3 separate regions of the Homo sapiens genome follow, and all the other regions are linked to region 2. The links come from fine-mapping of genetic effects on gene expression. A gene starts in region 2. Each other region holds a variant in brackets. All regions are shown on one strand. Distances are between the middles of the regions.

Region 1 (5,000 bases), 43 kb before region 2:
TGTTATTTTCAAGAATCACATTTCACATAGAAAGCCATGTGACAGTTTTTAAATTAAAAAAAAAAAAAGGTAGAAATTCCAGAGATCTTGTCTTAGGTATTTACTGCCAGCTACAAACAAACCCCTTTTGAATTTACTTAACAAGGAATTTAATAAAAGTAGCTCTGGCATTCAGCCGCAGCCCTGCCCACATTCCTGTTAGCTGAGGTCACCTGACTCTGCTTGTCGTTTTTGCACAGGCAGACGTGTGCATTCTGGAGAGCAGGGAGTGAGTGTAAAGTTTAGGCTGCGTCAGGATGCTGACTCCTCAGAAGTGTAACTTCGGCACTATCCAGCCTGTGGGTGGAATGGCAATAGCGGAGAATGGGAACTTCCTACTGGAGCTGTTTACGGTGACAGCCCAGGATTTGTGCCACACTTGCTTCCTTCATATGCTGGCTTCAGGTTTCTGATAGATGAATGGCACAGCTATGGTGAGTGTTTTGTTTTTGTTTTTGTTTTTGAGATGGAGTCTCACTCTGTAGCCCAGGCTGGAGTGCAGCGGCAAGATCTCAGCTCACTGCAACCTCCGCCTCCTGGGTTCAAGTGATTCTCCTGCCTCAGCCTCCTGAGTAGTTGGGATCAATCACAGGCACGTGCCACCACGCCCTGCTAATTTTTGTATTTTTGGTAGAAATGGGGTTTCACCATTTTGGCTAGGCTGGTCTCCAACTTGTCACCTCAGGTGATCTGTCTGCCTCAGCCTCCCAAAGTGCTGGGATTACAGGCGTGAGCCACTGCACCCAGCCATGGTGGGTGTTTTGTAGGGAACAATTTCAAAAGGACTTCTGGTGGCAACCATTGAGCCTCTGGTTGACAGATATGGGTAAAATTATTCAGAAAACATATCTAAGACAGGATGTGGAGAATAGTACTGTCATCAGTTTATACTTTAATACCACATCTAACAATGTTTATGATAGGGTTGATCACTTCCATGAAGGCATCACAAGCCTTGCTGTGTGAAGGGCATCTGAATACATTTTAATATTTTATATCTGTTCTTCACACCTTAGCCCCTCACTCTGGAGAAAATAGTACATTTTCTTTCTTAAAATATGGTACACTTAAAGAAACCTCAAATGTGGATCTTTTCTTTGAAAGTAAAACTGAACAGGTCCTTCTGCCCACCTGCAGTCCCCAAGGAAAGAACACATGTTACGTTCATTGCCAATAATAGGTCCTTCAGTACTTGTTGAATGAAGAATACTTGTGTTTTTCCACTGGCCAACCAAGGTGGATCCTGAAAGTGGAACCCGGAGTTCTCTAATAACTAAATTAGTGTTTTTAGTAGCTCATTTTGAATCCCTAAGCTGTGACTTCAACTCTGAAAGGCTGGCTAACTCTGGGAGGTTACCTTCACTTAATTAAGTACAGCATTTCTTCCAAAGCGCATGCAGTGCTTTATGTAAATTCTCTCTCCTGGATTTGTGTGACGTAGCAGGGTTAGAATGGTGAGACAGATGCCTGGTTTTGGAGTCATAAGACTGGCTTTGCCACCTAGCATCTGTGTGGTCTTAGGCCAGCCAACTTTTCTTTTTTTTTGAGATGGAGTCTCACTCTGTTGCCAGATTGGAGTGCAGTGGCATAATCTCGGCTCACTGTGCAACCTCCGCCTACTGGGTTCAAGTGATTCTCCTGCCTCAGCCTCCCAAGTAGCTGGGACTACAGGTGCTCACCACCACACCAAGCTAATTTTTATATTTTTAGTAGAGACAGGGTTTCACCATGTTGGCCAGGATGGTCTCGATCTCTTGACCTCATGATCCACCCGCCTCGGCCTCCAAAAGTGCTGGGATTACAGGCGTGAGCCACCGCGCCCTGCTAGGCCAGCCAGCTTTTCTGAAAGACCTCATGCTCTTACACATTACAAGCGGTTGTGAGAATCAAATGAGATAGGGTGCATCTCAGAATCTGAAAAATACT[A/G]TGCACACGGAAAGTATTATTTGGTCTCTAAGGCCCATCAACTTGGTCCTAACTCACTTTTATCAGTTTGTAGAACTTAATCTTTTTAAGTTCTCCGTATTTTTTTATGCTTTCATTTTTTAATGTGCTACCCTCTCTACCTGGGATGTGCTTTTTCTACAGGGCAAGCTCTGCATTTCCCCTCCTCTCCTTTTTCTCATCGTGGTTTGTACTTGCCTCTCAGCACCCATCACACTGGATGTAACTACAGGCATGTCTCTCCTGTTTGACTGTAAACTCCTTGCTGGACACATATCTCAGGAGTCCTTACAGCCATTTCAGTGCTGTTGCAAAGTGGATATTTAATAAATATTTGTTGAAGGAAGTCTGTTTGCTTGTTTTTGAGACAGAGTCTTGCTCTGTCACCTAGGCTGGAGTACAGTGGCATGATCTGGGCTCACTGCAAGCTCCCCTACCGGGTTCATGCCATTCTCTTGCCTCAGCCTCCCGAGTAGCTGGAACTACAGGCGCCCGCCACCACACCCGGCTAATTTTTTGTATTTTCAGTAGAGACGGGGTTTCACCATGTTAGCCAGGATGGTCTTGATCTCCTGACCCCGTGATCTGCCTGCCTCGGCCTCCCAAAGTGCTAGGATTATAGGCGCGGTGAAGGAAGTTTTTTTAAAAAAAGAACAGATCCAGAAGCAAGATTAGGGTATCAAGATTTTACATTACTAATTCTGAATTCGTTATCCTTTGCTTTCAGCCATATTAAAACTGAAAGCCTTCCATACCTGACGTTTTTCTATCTCATTATACAGCTTTCCTGTCAGATCTTCTTTTAGGGTGACTTTGAAGAATCAGAACATCAGGGCTCCAACTCTCAGTAGAGCCAGTAACCAGCTTCCTGATTTAAAAAAAAATCACCTTTGGCCTAATTTTGTCACTTATAAACAGTGGTATTGCAGTACCCTGGTATGATTAGTTATGATATGTTTAACAATAATTTTAAAATACCAAAGCTTGTGAATTATTTTACTTTCAAAAAATATGTAAGTTAGAATTGTAATTCTAAAGGCACTGTCGTTTGCTTACACATTCTAACATATTTCTAATAAGAAAGTACCTGCTTTCTTAAGAGAAAAAGGGATAAGTTACCAAAAGCAGCACGTTCTCCTGGGCTCATACCCCGGATTCATCCATGAGGCCACTTCCATTGTAAAGCTTTTAGCATCTCTTGATTTCTCTTGACACTGAGGCACAAAGGCCTGCTACTTATAGGCATTACTTCATTTTTCCTTATGAAGGGTACTATACCAACACAGACTTTATAGTATGTTTAAAAATCCCAACTGCAAGATACACAGGATGCTGTAGGCCTGATTTCCTGTTGTAGAACCTCCAGCCCTGTGTTGAATGAGGAGGTGCAAATATATAGACCCTTAAGATCAGACCACAGCAGGCATTCAGGTGGAGGGGATGAACTCCATTCATTCCAGCTGTGCAGTGGGACATCTGCGCCCTCCGCATCTCGGCTCATTCCTCATCTGAGCCACTCAAGAGGGCGGTCTGGTAAGTGTCATCTGAATTCAGCTTCTGAATTCCAATGATTTCTCCCCTTCCGTGTCTCTTCATCCGAGTCAAAAGGCTTTAATAGAGAAAGAGTAAGAGCCAATTAGCCAGAGATTCCCTTAATCCATTACCAAGGATGTGAAGGCATCTACTGATTCTTAAACTATTTTCTTTATATTTCTATCAAATACTGTGATTACATGTCTATAAACTAGACTTCTTAGGAAATATTCATCAGTAGATAAAGGGGCGATGGTGGAAACTACTGAATGTCATAATTGAGGCCAAGGTCTTGCCTATCTTGGTTTACTGTTTCAGTGGCTGGGCAGGAGAACTAAAAGAAACTGACTTGAGCTCCCTTCTCTTTGGTCCGTGTGGAACTCTTTCTGGATGAAATAATGGCAAAAATCACCGTTACTTTTGCACCAACCTAATATTCTGCTTGGGATCTAGAGAAATGACCTAGAAGAAAAGGTAGAGGCAGCCGAACAGCAAATAGAACTGGTAATACCATTTGCTAAAATTCACCCTTGCACTGAGAGGCTCTGCCATTTATTAGTGGGGTGACCTTGGTCAAGTTACTCAGCTTTTTGAAGCCTTGTTTTCTCCACCTGTAAAAAATAACAGTGCATACTTCATAAAGCAGTGAAGATTAAATGGGATAATAGAGTGTAGCTGCTTTCCACTGGGCCTGGGGCGCAGCAAGTGCATAGGAGTCCATAGCTGTTATCTGTATACCTCTAAGGAGCCTTCAGTGAGGGGTGGAGTGCAGTTTGTCTTAACATTCTGCTCTGGTTTATTTTTTGACTGTCACATCATTTCTGGGAAGCAGGGAGGGCAGGTCTGGAAATAAGATGATGGGTCCAGAATGAACCCTTTACGTGGGGACTGCCATCCAGTACTGATTCCCATTTCAGTATTCCCCACCACACCATAGGCTTAAAATCTGTGAGACCTGCATTTGAAACCTGGGTCCCTCAGGTTACTATGACTTTGAAAAGCCCTCAGGTCATTAAACTTTGAAAAGCCTCATTCCCCTTGTTTGCAAATAAGGGTAGTGATACCTTCCCTGCATGAGAGTACCTTGCACAGAATTTGGCCTGTAGTCGGCACTCATCAGATGGTGCAAGTTAATCACATCAGTCCTGCTTAGAGTTAGGAGGAAAAGCTTCACTGAAGTCTCAGACATACCAGTAAACAAGAGAATAGTTGACGGCCACAATGCTGAGGGCAGCCAGGTAGTGCCAGCAGAAGCACATGGTGATGAACATGAGGTTGGCATCATCCTTCTGGTCCCATTCGGGTGTTCCAAAAGGTGGGAACAGCACAAACCCAATCTAGGGGATTACAGAGAGAAGTTGGTCTTGTGGTTGGTCGTCCTGAGAAGCAATCTAGCCGTTCTCCTGTGGCCACCGAAGTGGCCCATGTGTGACCACCGCCTCATAGTTCCCACACTTCGTTAGCATAGAAAGGCCTTTTCACAT
Region 2 (11,187 bases):
TACAAGGGATCAGGAATTAGAATGGCATCAGCCTCTCAACAGCACCGTAAGAAAGTAGAATAAAATAGAGCAATGTTTTCAAAATTCGTACGGGAAATGATTTCTGATTAATATCCCATACCCAGCCAAACCAGCAAGCAAGTGTGAAGGAAGAAAAGTGACATCTCAAATGGGCACAAGCTCAAAAAGCAACCGCATCTTATGGGGCCTGAATCTTATACACTTTTGGGAGCCTTCTTTAAGAAAAAGGCGTAAAATTACAAAAACTGTACATAATTGGGTATGAAAGTACATATGTATTCCACAAGAGATGGCCTAGACAGAAAAAAAAAGTGTGTGTGTATTTAGAATGAGAAAATAAATCACAACAGACAGGGACCGTGGAGGTTCTAGACTCTGTCTTTTCAGATGTGCTTGGAAAATTTACCCCAAATGCTTCTTGATGGCGGCCTGGCGTTTCCTCCCCACTCAACAGCTCCATGCAATTAGCAGCACTCAGAGGGCCCCCATGAGTTTCCTTGGCTCCAGGAAATGACTTCTTGGTGATGAGTTCTCAAACAACTAAAGAAAATGTAGCAACTCCTACACCCCATTCCAGGGGGTTGGGGGAAAGACTGGTCAAGAAGGGAAATGTAAAGATCATGGTGTATCATGTGCCTTAGTTGGGAATAATATATACACCAAACATTGACATATCAAAAATTTAGGATATAACCGTACTGGGAACTTAAAAGAAAGGGATGTGAAGGTGAGAGGGAGGGTGGGGGTGTAAAGGAGCGAAACCCTCATCCTTCTTGGTAGGATGTCAATAGATGTCATCCAGAACTGGAAAAGAGAAGAAGAAATGGCCCGTATCTGCATGCTATTTAGAATATGGTAATATCAGAAAAACACAACCCAAAGCATTGAAAGTAATTGCCGCTAGGGTTCTATACTCAGTATAAACTCAATGAAAACCTTCTACAATGAACGACTTCTAAGACTATACATTGATTTATGTTGACCAAAGCAGATAATTAAAAAATAAAGTATACCCTCAAGAGGAGTGAGGCAAAAAGCTAACAGAAATAAAATAAAGTCGCTTTTGCTAAACTACCTGACATTCGGTGTTTCTCAAAATGTATTCCCGCAACCACCTGCCCTCAGATGACCTGGCGTGCCCGTCCATAATGGAGAATTATAGACCCAGCCCAGACCTACATAATCAGCAGTTCTCAGAGTGGTCCTTGCACTCTACCATTTAAAAAAGTTCCCCTGGACCCACTGCATTACCCATTGCTTTTTAGTAAAACAAACAAAAAACCAAAACAAATAACAACCTATTTAGAGACAGGATCTATGACTCATAAAACACACTATGGCAGATGCTGCTAGCTGCCTACCCAATGTTCATTCTCCCCCCGCCTTATTAACAAAATTCCTATTTTGTTGTTATTATTATTTTTTTGAGATGGAGTTTCGCTCTTGTTGTCCAGGCTGGAGTGCAAGTGGCATGATCTCGGCTCACTGCAACCTCTGCCTCCTGGGTTCAAGCGATTCTCCTGCCTCAGCCTCCTGAGTAGCTGGGACTATAGGCGCCTGCTAGCACGCCCGGCTGATTTTTTGTGTTTTTAGTAGAGATGGGGTTTCACCATGTTGGCCAGGCTGGTCTTGAACTCCTGACCTCAGGTGATCCACCCGCCTTGACCTCCCAAAATGCTGGAATTACAGGCGTGAGCCACTGTGTCTGGCCCAAAATTCTTATTTTGATGTATTGGCAACGTGTCTGTCTCAAACACTAGATTCTCTCTGGTTCCGTCACCGTTAACAGTGTGTATGTGATATGGTTCTGGCCAATGACATGTAAGAAGTCTTTTGGGGTGGGCTACCAGAAAAGCTGTTATTATTATTATTTATTATAAAGAAGGACAGGCCAGGCGTGGTGGCTCACATCTGTAATCCCAGCACTTTGGGAGGCCGAGGGGGGCAGATCACAGGGTCAGGAGTTCAAGACCAGCCTGACCAACATGGTGAAACCCCGTCTCTACTAAAAATACAAAAATTAGCTGGGCGTGGTGGTGCACGTCTGTAATCCCAGCTACTTGGAGGCTGAGGCAGGAGAATCACTTGAACCCAGGAAGCGGAGGTTGCAGTGAGCCGAGATTGTGCCACTGAGAGAGACTCTGAGTCAAAAGAAAGAAAGAGATGAGACAGAGAGAGAGAGAGAGAAAAGAAAAGAAGAGAGAAAAGAAAAGAAAAGAAAAGACAAGACAAGACTCTTCTGGAGCATGCCTCTGCCCGTCTTTCTGCTGCAACTTGCGGAAGTGAGTATGAAAGCTCCATGCTAAGGAGGGTGGTGCGGGAAGACACAAGGAGCCTGTCTCAGATGACGTTCATATCGGAACCCCTTTCCCAGCCCCAGCCTTCTCACCTCCAGACTTCTCGTTCTCTGAGAAAAACAAACTCCTTACTTGTTTAAGCCGCTGTAGTAGGGTTTTCTGTTCTTGTAGCTGAATGAACGTCTAATGACATCTCACACTTTTTCAGATGTTTATCTGACATACCACATTTTATGTATGCCTGCTATGGGCACTGTGCTAGGAATAAGACAAGTAAAGCTCTCTTTGTCATGGAACCAGGAGCACAGTTAGAACAGAAGTTAGAACTTTAGCCACTATAATAACGGCTACAGTTATAATAACAGTTAGAACAGAAGGTCCATAGGCATTTGAGGCTGGGATTCAAGGAGGTTATGTTTGCTGTCACAGACCTCAAACCAAAAGAGTACATCAAAATAAGTCACTGGATTTATACATTTGGCAAATTCTCAAGGGACCACATGACAGAAGGAGCAAAAATCTGAACATTGTTTTTAGCTGTAATTCTCCAATGAAGTAGATTTGGGGAAGCAACATGAGGTACTTGCTTTATTTTTCTTAAATCCGGTTTTCTTCCTTGAAAAACCACAAGATTGGACTTGACAATCTTTAAGGTTATACTCAGCTCTAAGATATTTTTGTAATTATATGGAACAAAGATGGGCATGAAATATACCAAACGAGAGAGTTTCTAAATTTAGATTCTGATAATTCAAGTCAGAAAACATATTAAGTGTTCGGGAAAAACAAATCACAATCTTCCATCACAAAATTCAACAAGAACAACAAAAACCACTCCAGAGGCAGCTGTGGTATTCTGGAAGGAATGTTGGTTTGAGTTCTGGCTCTGCCATTTAATTACTGGCTAACCCTGGACCACATACACAATATCTCTGTTTCCATCTCCTCATTTTTGAAATACGGATTCTAATCTGACCTGAACAGTGCTGTTTACAAACATCGCCTTGTGCTCTATAAAGCCCCATTATGATTTCAACAACCAGCAAGATAATGGCTTATGATATCTAAGTCCTGGCAAGGAGAATGCGGGTGTGTACCTTGCTATATTCAGTTGAACTCTGCATCACATACAGAAGGCTGATAGACCTTTTAGCTTTCCTTTTTCCTCCAGTAGTGTAGCTTGTGGCCATTTAAGTTTTACACAAGAGAATAGAAAAGAGAGATAAAATTTGCTAAAATTCAAATAGTCTATTTGTGTTTGTTTCTAGCCTCAGTGAAGGTTTTGGGGAGAGGGGTAGCTGGTTAAAAGAGTAGAAGCTTAAGAGTTCAAAGAAAGTGTGAGGAGGACAGCACTCACCTGTGGCCTCTAATTGTTCATATTCAGTATGGTCTCATACTGGGAATAATCTAGTGTTTGTCTTATGATCTTTCTATAGAAACAAATATGGAATGTGTCTATAAGTACCATTAGTTGATGACACACTAGTGACTTTAATTCTCTTACAGTAAAAAGTTTTGCAATAGCAAGGACTTTGGCTAGGGGAGTGACTCTATGTGTGGTGAAACTGTCCTCACCCATTTTTCATTTGAGGAAAAGAGATAATCTTTTGATTACACCCAACACAGGTAACATCTGTACTTTGAACAGTTAAGTATAGCAGCTGATGTTTAACTGCAGGTAGGGGGGAGATGAGAAACAGAAATAACTGGTGCCAAATGTGAGATTCAATTACCTCGACCATCACAACCAACATCAACCAGAAGGGTGTGGGAGGAACTCATGGAATAAATGGGAACAGGTGTGGCCTGAGGATAAGTAAGTGGGGGCACTGTTTCCATCTTCATGAAGATGTGAGAGGAAATCAAAGCTCTTTAAAAAGAAGGAAATGGAATGCTTGGCTCCTGTAATATCAGAACAAATAATGCACAGCCAGAGGTCATGCCTCACCTTCTGCTTATCTCAGTCACCTCCACTTGTAAAATCAGTGGGCCATATTCAATAAAACCTTCATATCAGTTCCATATCTTTTCCCAGAAACCCCAGGAACAGAGGGAGCCAATATCCTTATTAAACCAAGAAGCTCACTGTCACAAAGAGCTAAGTCTGACGCCCCTGGGCCCCTACCTAACCACGTGTCCTGATTCTTTCCATAACTTCCCACTGCACAACATCCAGGTTATACTGAAGATATTACACATCTGGTTAAAAACAGTACACGTCTCTCATGAACAATAAGCCATCCTTTCTATTAAAATGAGTGTAAAATTGCAGGTAAAATGCTGTAGGCAGGCCTGTTTGGAAGGCTATGCGACCCTAGGAGACAAAAAGGTGCAGGAGGAGGAAAAGGGCAGACACCGCAGAAAGCGGTCGAAGAGAACGTGAAAGAAGTGGCCATTTCTAGCTGGGCGCGGTGGTTCACGCCTGTAATCCCAGCACTTTGGGAGGCTGAGGCGGGTGGATCATGAGGTCAGGAGATCGAGACCATCCTGGCTAACACGGTGAAACCCCGTCTCTACCAAAAAAAAAAAAAATACAAAAAATTAGCCGGGCGTGGTGGCGGGCGCCAGTAGTCCTAGCTACTCGGGAGGCTGAGGCAGGAGAATGGTGTGAACCCGGGAGGTGGAGCTTGCAGTGATCCGAGATTGCGCCACTGCACTCCAGCCTGGGCGACAGAGCGAGACTCCGTCTCAAAAAAAAAAAAAAAAAAAAAAAGAAGTGGCCATTTCTGCAACTTTTAGGAGAGCTACCTGCCCTCAAATTTTGAAAGGGTTTCTATTTCTTAAAGTGCTACGTTTCCCTGGCTGAAACTCACATCTTTCTTCCCTCTAGGGCTGGATCAAAGCTTCAGAGGTTGTTTCTCTGGCCCTAGACAGGGCCACCCCCGCAAATTTCTCCCCCACTGCGCCTGACATCCGCTTCCATCCATGGCTCCATTAACGGAAGCTAAGCACTGGCTCGGGGGACTTTATCCACCGCCCGGTGTTATTAGATTCCAGGCTTCCTGGCCTCAGGAAAGGATCTGGCTCGTGTATTTGTGTATCGCAGCTAACAAGGAAAGGCAGTCGGTACCAGTGCCCAGAGCTATGTGAGCTGTGACTGGTCACAGCCCAGGAGCCAGATGGCATCCCCGGGGGCGCGCGTCCCCGGACTCACCGGGCAGACGGAGGCCCGGGGCTTCACACCTTCCCCTCACCGGGCAACGCGGCAGACCTGACTCGCGGGGGACTGAGCAATATTCGTTCCAGGGCCGCGGCCAGCCGGACAGAGGCACTCGGGGGCGGTGGGAGTAGTGTGCGCACCGGTTCCGCAGCCCGGAGGGGGCCCCAGCTGGGCTTCCGCGACACCAGGGCCCTCCATCCCCTCCCGTCCTCCCCTAGCGCAGCCTTCACCCCTGTCCCAGAGCCCCTCCCTGTCCGCGTCCCCTCCCCCGCAGGTCCCCTGCGAGTCGGAACCTCCTCTCCATCACAGCCCCGCTCCTTGGCGGGGCCCCCTCTCCCTTCGAGCCCTCCTCCAGGTTCGAGCCCCCTGCGGGTACGGACGTCTGACCTGTGCCCAGCGCCTCGCAGCCGTCTGCAGCCCGCGCCGCGCGCCAAGTGCGTCCGCCCAGAAGCAGGTGCAGCTCCAGGCCCGCCCCGCCCCGCTGCGCCCCGCCCCGCTCCACTCCGCCAGGCCTGGCAGCCGCCAGCCCCTTTCCACCCTTGACCGCCCTTCCCGGTCCCGGCCAGCGTGCGGGGCATCTGTCGTCAGGTCCGCACTTCCTCCAGGCCTTTGACTTTCCCGTGGAGATGTCTCTGGCCTCAGGAACTCCCTAAGCTGTGTGCTTCAGGAGAGGCTGGTTCCTGAGTCACCCAAGAGGACTGCAACCAACCTGGACCTCCTGAGATGCAAAGAGATCGCAGGGCCTGGGAGGCGGCGAGGACCCTGAGAACAGGCTGTGGCTCCGAAGAGTGTTTGTTACCAAGCCAGGCAACCACTGCGAACACACCGCAGAAACAGCCACGGATCACCGTCCAGCAAAGGAAGAAGGTGCCAACGGTCCATCAGGGACCACAACCCAGTTTTTTTAGTTTAAGTTTGGTGGCTAAGTTTGAGTGTCACATAGTTCATTCATTCCTTCATTCATTCAACAAATCTGCCATGTTCCCATCTGATAACAGATCTGACAGGTGGGCACTGTTCTAGGTGCTGGCGATAGAGCTAAGAAGGAAACAAAGTTCCTGTCCCGGAGAAGGGGGCTACCTGCTGAGGAGAGCATGACTTTCTTTGTGGTATTGTGCTGTGGCAGCAGGGTCCTCTTCTGTAAGCTACTGAGAGGTGAAACCCGCTGGGCTTCTGGGTCGGATGGGGACTTGGAGAACTTTTCTGTCTAGCTAAAGGATTGTAAAAGCATCAATCTGCACTCTGTGTCTAGCTAAAGGTTTGTAAACACACCAATCAGCACTCTGTAAAAATGCACCAATCAGTGCTCTGTGTCCAGCTAATTGGTGGGGACTTGGAGAACTTTTCTCTCTAGCCAAAGGATTGTAAATGCACCAATCAATGCTCTATGTCTAGCTAAAGGTTTGTAAACACATCAATCAGCACTCTGTAAAAACGGACCAATCAGCACTCTGTAAAATGGACCAATCAGCACTCTGTAAAATGGACCAATCAGCGCTCTGTAAAATGGACCAATCAGGAGGATGTGGGCAGGACCAATCAGGAGGATGTGGGCGGGGCCAATGAGGGAATAAAAGCTGGCCATCCGAGCCAGCGGCAGCTGCGTTTGGGTCCCCTTCGATGGTGTTGGGGTTTTGTTGTTTCGCTCTTTGCAATAAATTTTGCTGTTGCTCACCTTTTAGGTCCACACTACCTTTATGAGCTTTAACACTCACAGTGAAGGTCTGCAGGTTCACTCCTGTAAACCAGCGAGACCAGGAAGCCACCACAAGAAACAACTCTGGAGCCGCCACCTTTAAGAGCCATAACACTCACTGTGAAGGTCTGTGGCTTCACTCCTGAAGTCAGCGACACCACGAACCCACAGGGAGGAGCAAACAACTCCAGACGCACCACTTTTAAGAGGTGTAACACTCCCTGCGAAGGTCTGTGGCTTCACTCCTGAGGTCGGCGAAACTACGAACCCGCTGGGAGGAAGGAACAACGCGGATGCGCCACCTTTAAGAGCTGTAACACTCCCTGCGAAGGTCCGCGGCCTCACTCATCAAGTCGTGCATAGACCACGAACTCTCTAGAAAGAAAAAACTTCGGACACACCTGAACATTTGAAGGAACAAACTCCGGACACACCATGTTTAAGAACTATAATGCCGTGAAGGTCCGCGGCAGGACCGGGACCAGGAACTCTTCAGAGGGAACCAATTCCGGATACACAGCTTCGTGGAATGGTTCTGCACTGTGTGTGTGTGTGTTTCCCGTCAACCCTGTGCACACTATTAGAAGAACACAAGCGTTAAGGCTCCCTCTCAGTCCTGCCGGTAAGAATCCAGGGCTGATGCACCTATTAAAAGCTTCTCAGGAGGCCTGGGGAAGTGGGGGTTGAGAACCACGGGTCTAGATCTCTAAGATGCCTGGCAGCTTATTCCACTGTTGAGGGCACTGGCAATCAGGAAGGGCTTCATGGAAGAGATGTTTGCATTTGGGTTTTAAAGCAGGGCCACAGCTAGATATTAGCAGTGCAGAAGGACACGGGATCCGACGGGCAGCCTGTTGACCAAATGGCTCCGTTTTTATAAAGTCAAAGAACATCACTGTGAAGGATAAGGCATTAACTGGAGCAGACCTTTCCCTGGTAAAACAGAGCGAATGGGATCTGGTGGGAGGTGGTAATGGCCAAGAGGTAGTGCCGTCAGTGAAAAGCGTCATGGAGTCGTGCACCTTACAGGGAGGATGGGCCGCAGCCAGGAGCTGAGAGGGCATCTTTTAAATTTGCCGTCAGCTCAGGAACTTAATCACACATCTCATCCTAGCCCTTGCTCACACCCATTGTTTTAGAAATCGTTGATAGAGTGGAGTCCTGGATGCCTGTTACTCTGGGAGAGGCTGTCCTCTGTCACCAGATCCCTTTTATGGACAGGCATTTTCTTTAGTAATATTTACCTTGTCTACGATGATGAAACAAAGGTGTGACCTCTTAATTGTATAGTTAATGGTGAGTAGAGATGCTTTTTTTTTTTTTACTTTTTATTTTTGAGACAGTTTTGCTCTTGTTGCCCAGGCTGGAGTGCAATGGCGCGATCTCGGCTCACCACAACCTTGGCCTCCTGGGTTCAAGTGACTCTCGTGTCTCACTCTCCTGAGTAGCTGGGATCACAGGCATGCGCCGCCATGCCCAGCTAATTTTGTGTTTTTAGTAGAGTCGGGGTTTCTCCATGTTTGTCAGACTGTTCTTGAACTCCCGACCTCAGGTGATCTGCCCACCTCAGCCTCCTAAAGTGCTGGGATTAGAGGTGTGAGCCACCTCGCCCGACGGAGATGCTTCTTAATATTAAAAAATCTAAACAAAATAATTTCTGCTTCAAATTATAATAACCAGGTACCAGGACAAAACCAATTTTTTGTTGTGTGTGTGTGTGTGTGTTTGAGACGGGCTCACTTTGTTGCCCAGGATGAAGTTCAGTGGTGCAATCATAGCTCACTGTAGCCTCGACCTCCAACGCTCAAGAGATACTCTTGCCACAGCTTCCTAAGTAGCTGGGACTACAGGTGTGCATCAACACGCATGGCTAATGTTTACATTTTTAAAAATTGCAATAGTTTTTGGGGAACAGGTCATTTTTTTGTTACATGGATAAGTTATTTAGTGGTGATTTCTGAGATTTTTGTGTACTCATCACCTGAGCAGTGTACACTGTACCCAATGTATAGTCTTTTATCCCTCACCCTCCTCCCACTTTCCCTTGAGTCCCCAAAGTCCATTATATATATATATATATATATATATATATATATATATGTATGTATGTATGTATTTTTTTTTTTTTTTTGAGACAGTCTTGCTCTGTCGCCCTGGCTAGAGTGCAGTGGCGCAATCTCAGCTCACTGCAACCTCTGCCTCCCAAGTTCAAGCGATTCTCCTGCCTCAGACCTCTGAGTAGCTGGGACTACAGGCGCGTGCCACGACGACTAATTTTTTGTATTTTTAGTAGAGACAGGGTTTCACCATGTTAGCCAGGATGGTCTCAATCTCCTGACTTCATGATCCGCCTGCCTTGGCCTCCCAAAGTGCTGGGATTACAGTTGTGAGCCACTGCACCCGGCCCATTATATCATTCTTATGCCTTTGCATCCTCATAGTTCAGCAAACCCTTATAAGTGAGAACATACACGATATTTGGTTTCCCATTCCTGAGTTACTTCACTTGGAATAGTGGTCTCCAACTCCCGTACAAATTGCTGCAAATGCCATTACTTCAGTCCTTTTTATGGCTGAGTAGTATTCCATGGTGTAAATATATCACATTTTCTTTATCCACTTGTCAGTCGAGGGGCATTTAGGCTGGTTCCATATTTTTGCAATTGTGTATTTTGCTCCTATAAACATGCAGATGCAAGTGGCTTTTTCATATAATGACTTCTTTTCTTCTGGATATATACTCAATAGTGGGACTGCTGGATCAAATGGTAGTTTTACTTTTAGTTCTTTAAGGAATCTCCATAAAGTTTTCCACAGTGGATGTACTAGTTTATATTCCCACCATCAGTGTAAAAGTGCCCTTTTCATCACATCTATGCAAACATCTACTATTTTTTGACTTTGTAAATTATGGCCAGTCTTGCAGAAGTAAGGTGGTATTTCATTGTGGTTTTAATCTGCATTTCCCTGATAATTAGTGATGTTGAGCATTCTTTTTCATGTGTTAGTCATTTGTGTATCTTCTTTTGAGAACTGTCTATTCATGTTCTTTGCCCACTTTTTGATGGGATTATTTCTTTTTTTCTTACTGATTTGAGTTCCTTGTAGATTCTGCATATTAGTCCTTTGTAGGACGCATAGTTGAATATTTTCTCCCATTCAGTGAGGTGTCTGTTTACACTGCTGATTATTTTGCTGTGCCGAAGTGTTTTCATTAGGTAATATCTATTTATTTTTGTTTTTGTTAGATTTGCTTTGGGGTTTTTGGTCTTAAAATCTTTGCCTAAGCCAATGTCTAGAAGAGTTTTTCCAGCGTTATTTTCTAAAGTTTTTATGGTTTCAGGTCTTACATTTAAGTGTTTGATCCATCTTGAGTTGATGTCTGTATAAGGTAAGAGATGAGGATCCAGTTTCATTCTTCTGTATGTGGCTAGACAGTTATCCCAGCACCATTTGTTGAATAGGGTGCCCCTTCCCTATTTGTGTTTTTGCTTTCTTTGTTGAAGATGAGTTGGTTGTAAGTATTTGGCTTTATTTCTGGGTTCTGTATTCTGTTCCATTGGTCTATGTGCCTATTTTTATATTGGTACCATGCTGTTTTGGTACTGGTATAAATCTTGTAGGATAGTTTGAAGTCAGTTAATGCGATGCCTCCAGATGTTTTTTTTTTTTTTTTTTTTTTTTTTTTTGCTTAGTCTTGCTTTGGTTATGAGGGGTCCTTTTTGGTTCCATATGAATTTTAGATTTTTTTTTCTAGTTCTGTGAAGAATGATGATGGTACTTTGATAGGAGTTGCACTGAATGTGTAGATTGCTTTTGACAGCTTTCACAATATTGAATCTACCCATGAGCATGGGATGTGTTTCCATTTGTTTGTGTCATCAGTGATTTCTTTCAGCAGTGTTTTGTAGTTTTCCTTGTAGAGGTCTTTCACCTGCTTGGTTTTATATATATATATATGTGTGTGTGTCATAGATAGTTTTTATTACCTTGAGGTATGTCCCTTCCATGCC
Region 3 (5,076 bases), 37 kb before region 2:
ATCACCGAAGTTTCCTCCTACACCTGTCTCAGCTAGGTTCTTCAGCATTTAGGCAGTTAGTACATAACATTACAGGCAGCAAACAGATGCGAGTAAGTGTATTTCATGAGTATGTTAGGAGTATAAAGCAGCAAGGGATTGTATCTTAAAATCTCTATGGAACCCATGGTGGGGTCAGTATAGGATGGGCCGGCTGAAGCATGTTGCTGATTTGTAACAGACTGTGTGTGTATACTTGAAATTCAGTTTTGCCCTCAACCTTTTTCGACTCTTGCTGAGGTACAGAAGTGAGGTTGTTAGATGACAAAATGTATTTTCATACCCCAGTCAGTGTGAGTCATACTGGCAGCGCTCCCCTGGCAGTGGAGTGGGTCTCCTGAGGCTTGTGATGGAGGCAAGACGGTACCTCCCTGGGCAAAAGGTAGAGTGTGGTTTCGCTTAACCAAAGGGGTGTATCCCCTGCATGGTGGCATTCAACCAGCTGGGGCATTGTGTGTACCCGCATGTGTATGTGCGCACATACGTCCACACCGAGGAATATGCACGTGTGTGAGCAGGGGCTGCTGGCGGCAGTGGGAAGGCGAGGAGGACTCCTGCAGTGTTAGCCGGGGCTTTGGTAGCTGCCTTCAAGCCTCAAAGCTTTCATGAGCTACTTTAGGGAATATGTCACCTGGCCCATCCAGAGTAGAGCACTAGGTCCTATTCAGGTTTTGGCAGTCCAGAGATGTGGATTTTCTGGGGGAGGTTATTATATTTGCAACATTTCTGATATTTTGTACTCTGATCCTTCATAAATATGACTTGTCAGGCTCTCCTTCCTCTCCATCCGTTCCACAAAATTACCTTCCATGAATACTGCCACAGCCATAACCAGTCTGTCCACCCCCAAGGGAACGTGGCTGACCAGATAGGTGAGCATGTCAACAATTCCTGAGACTGCAAAGAATAGGTACATGGTGCTGTGCTGCCAATTCATTAACTTTATCCAGTGGTTCTCATGGTAGAGGTGCAGGTGGGGCCCATCCGGAACAAACTGCTCTGCCAGGATCCCTGCAGGGAAATGAGGATGGATGTTTTAGAGGGAAGAGTAGCTCTAAGACAAATAGGAGCAAGGAATAACCCAAAGGCATGAGCGAAGCGGAGATGGGGTGAGGTGAGGGTGGCCCGCGGGTCAGCAGAGCTACTTTGCTGCCTCAGGTGCAGCTGCTTCAGTATAAAGTAGGGTGTGTGCTGAGTCACCTGTGTAGACATCTTGCCATTGTTGTTCCTTTTAGGGGTTTGGGGTTGAGGGTAGAAGAATCAATGAACACAACCACACACACATAGATCCCCAGGAGGTTTGTCCAGGAGCAGAGATGAGCAAGACATCATCACTTAAGTCGGAGTGTGGCTGATAGAATAATCTCTGGGCTTCCCTGCCAAGTGAGCAGTGAAAGAAATCCCAGACAGAAACAATTAGGCTGAAAGCAGAATCTGAGCAGAGACACACTGGTAATGAAGATACCTGTACGTGCCAAGGGAGGGAAGCGGCTCCCAGGTGCGTGTCTGCAGGGCTGATTTTGAGTGCGTGTCCTTCCTGGGCACAGAGCCAGCTCTGCAAGCCCTGCGCCCCTCCCAGCTGTGTGTTTTAAAACACCGGGTAAACAAGGCAGAGGCCCCAGGATGTGGGCCAGAAAATGACGAAACTGCGACACAGGATAGCTCTTAGTTCTTATCCCTTCTACTTTTATCAGCTAATTTGGAAGGCAAAAGATTTGTCTTTATGCCTGGTACCCAAAGTGTTCTTGGGGAAGCCTAGAAGAAATCCTCCATGATGACATTTTGGACTCCGTTTCCCAGATACTTGTTTCTCAAGCCAGACCCTTTTTGAATTCCCACACACAGAGTCAGGAAGTTGTGGAAATGACCCAGGAAAAGTCCCAGTGACACTAGAATGGAAGCCCTGTGACAGCAGCGGCTGTGTGGTTCCCCAGTGTATCTCCTATGCCTGGAACAGTGACTTCCTGGCTTGTGGTAGGAGTGCCAGAGAGCTGTTGAATGAGTACCATTTTCACCCAGTCAAGGGGCCAAATATTGTAATTGTCCTAGCTTTATTTAGGCAAGGTTGATGCTGTCCTGATCCTTTAAGCCACAGGTCCCTGTCACTTCTCACGGGAGGCCTCTCTGATGCCTGAATGGTGAGTGGGGACATTCAGCAGGATGAGACCAACAAAGCCCTGTGAAGCTTTGCTTCCTCCAAGAGAAGCGATGTTGCTTCACTCTCTCCAAGAAGCCATAGGCCACTGATGACAAGTGGTAATTGTCAGTTGCAGATTAAGACCCCTCATTCCCCCCAGGTGGGGCTGGTCCTGAGGAAGAACACTTGTTACTGTCATCACTGCTTGTTCCTGGAGGGCCGCAGTGGAGCGGAGTGGATGCGAAGGAAACAGTGGGAGTGGGTGGATCTTG[T/C]TGGAATGGGGCAGAGTGAAGGAAAATTCCTCTTCAACAGCCCTCTGCTGCTTTTTCTCTCCCACTGGCTAATTTACGAATCTACATAAACTCTCTATAAGCGCTTGAGACTTGAGGATGAAGATAAGCCAGTGGGTTGGGTGTTAACTACTGTAAGGATCTGGAGGGAGAGACAATTGAGGAAAAAAGGTGATTTTTCTACTTTGTCACAACTAAGGTACGTGAGCCTAATCTATTTTGTTTTTTTCTCTTTTTATTTGTGTCATATCTTTTTCATACAGTGGGTGTTTTGCTCCTACAACTTTCCATACCTGTGTCCTTGTTGATTTGAGTTTTTCACAGTGTCCCATGATGTGAGAGCTGTCAACCGTTAGTATTATAAAGCTCTGTACACAATGGATGTTACGATAAAATAGTCTAGTGGCCATCAGGAAATTGTTGCCCTATTATCTCTGCCAGTGGGAACATCTATTTCACAGGGCTCAGAAAATGAATTAAAGGTTCTGGGTATGATGAGGAGATTCCCTAGACCAAATGACCCCTGCTCTTACCAGTGACGGAAAACAAAGTCCTAATTGCGGCTTCGACGATCTCGAGACGCTGATAGTAATGTAGTGGGCTGTTCTTCCGCGTGTGGCTAAAGTACTTCAGCGGGTACTTCACTGACCAACACAGCCCAATGATCAGGAAGAAACTCCCTGGAAGCGCGTGGCCCTTGAAATTTGCCATCAGGACACCTAAAAAATTAGGGGAAGGCTGTTAGGTGGCTAATGAAGCAAGCAAACAAATGTATATTTTGGCAGGAAACACAATACGTGCCTGAGATTGCAAATCATAAGCCACGTTAAGAAGGATCAACACATTCTCATAAAACAAGCCTTATGTTACGTCACTGAAGTCTCATCTGTAAAGTGAGTTGCATAACCAACTGGACTCCACTGTCTGTAATGCTTTAAACATGTGGGTAAAATAAAAGGATGAGGGTGGGGAAAGAGGAGGATAGGTAATATTTATTGATCTCAGATAGAGAAAACTTCCAAGCCATAAACATAAAGGGGGGAACTAGAAAAGAAAAACGTTCAGCTATATAAGCATCTTTTAATATCAAGAACATCAAAAGGTAAACAACAAATCAGAAACATGCTTGTAGCAGTTGGCTATTACATTAGAGTCTTTACAAATTGATAAGAAAAAGACCGTAGAAGAATAGGCAGAAGACATGAACGGATGATTCACAAAATAATACAAACAAATTATAAATCTCCCGGAAATTAGAGATGGGCAAACGAAAGCACAACATCATTTTTCACCCAACTGGAAAATAATTTTATAAAGTTTTGGTGTGGTGGTCTAGTACAAATGAACCTGGTCAATATGATTCACAGTTTGTAAAAATCAGCATAACGATGTAAACATCACCTTATTCCAAAAATTTTCAGGCATGATTTGCTGTTATCCCATTTGCAGTAGCATGAAACTATAGCTAGGATTTATTCAGAAGTAGATTGATTATTTTCCCCACTGGCCTGGGTGGTTACCTAAAGAATATGTAGGGTGGGAGAAAAATACCAGTTGTTGGTGATTGCTGTGGTTTGAATGTGTCCCCTCCAAAATCCAGGTGTTGCCAAGGTGATAGCATTAAGAGAAGGGGACTTTTTTTTTTTTTTTGAGGCAGAGTTTCACTCTGTCACCCAGGCTGGAGTGCAGTGGCACGATCTTGGCTCACTACAACCTCTGCCTCCCAGGTTCAAGCGATTCTCCTGCCTCAGCCTCCCGAGTAGCTGGAATTACAGGCACCCGCCACCACGCCTGGCTAATTTTTATATTTTTAGTAGAGACGGGGTTTCACCATGTTGGCCAGGCTTTTCTCGAACTCCTGACCTTAGGTGATCTGCCCACCTCGGCCTCCCAAAGTGCTGGGATTACAGGTGTGAGCCACCACACCCGGCCGAGAAGAGGACTTTTAAGAAGGGACTAGGCCATGAGGGCCCCTCCCTCCTGAACTAGGAGCAGATGCCCTCCCTCATACAGGGGTTGGCTGGAGGGAGCTGGTCCCCTGTTTGTCCTCCTGCATGTGAGGATGCAGCCCTCAGCAGACACCAGATGCTGCTGCCTTGATCTTGGACTTCCCAGCTTTCAGAACAGTGAGAAATAAATTGTTGTTCTTTATAAATTACCCAGTCTGCGTATTGTGTGATATCAGCACAACAGGGACTAAGACAGAAATTGGTACCAGAGGAGTTTATAACATTTATAACCAGGGGTTATAACAAATATGTAAAAATGTGGGGGTGGCTTTGGAACTGGATAATGAATACAAGCTGGAACAGCTTTGAAGTGAGTGCTGAAAAAAGCCTGGATTGCCATGAACGGAGCACTAAGGATGATTCTGGTGAGGGCTCAGAAGAAGAGGAGAGCTGTAGATGTGGGATATGAGCTGTGGGGAAAGCCTCGTTCTTAGAGATTGCCTAAGTGGTCATGAACAGAATGTTGATAGAGATACCGATGGTGAAGGCAATTCTGATGAGGTCTCAGACAGAAATAAAGAACAAGGTATTGGAAACTAGAAGAAAGGTTATCCTTGTTAGAAAGTGGTAAAGAACTTACCTGAATTATGTCGTTTCCTAG

Evidence for each region. PIP is the estimated chance that this variant, and not a neighbour inherited with it, causes the effect.
Region 1: its variant is fine-mapped to the expression of TMEM45B in whole blood (TOPMed, PIP 0.99).
Region 3: its variant is fine-mapped to the expression of TMEM45B in whole blood (TOPMed, PIP above 0.99).

What each region holds. Positions count from the first base shown.
Region 1 is chr11:129,857,166-129,862,165 of GRCh38, reverse strand. It overlaps TMEM45B (transmembrane protein 45B), which reads right to left. Exons shown (of 6, transcript NM_138788.5): 5 at 4,708-4,853; 6 at 2,163-3,592. The coding sequence ends at 3,481. Among named protein-coding and RNA genes, the nearest start is that of NFRKB, 36 kb to the left of the region's middle. RefSeq lists enhancers at 38-332, 1-438. The variant A/G (reference allele first, on the strand shown) is at 1,966.
Region 2 is chr11:129,810,577-129,821,763 of GRCh38, reverse strand. TMEM45B (transmembrane protein 45B) reads right to left here and starts at 5,916. Exons shown (of 6, transcript NM_138788.5): 1 at 5,866-5,916. It overlaps LOC124902793 (a long non-coding RNA gene), which reads left to right and starts at 7,077. Exons shown (of 2, transcript XR_007062952.1): 1 at 7,077-7,796.
Region 3 is chr11:129,850,584-129,855,659 of GRCh38, reverse strand. It overlaps TMEM45B (transmembrane protein 45B), which reads right to left. Exons shown (of 6, transcript NM_138788.5): 2 at 3,000-3,185; 3 at 844-1,050. The coding sequence starts at 3,177. Among named protein-coding and RNA genes, the nearest start is that of TMEM45B, 37 kb to the right of the region's middle. The variant T/C (reference allele first, on the strand shown) is at 2,449.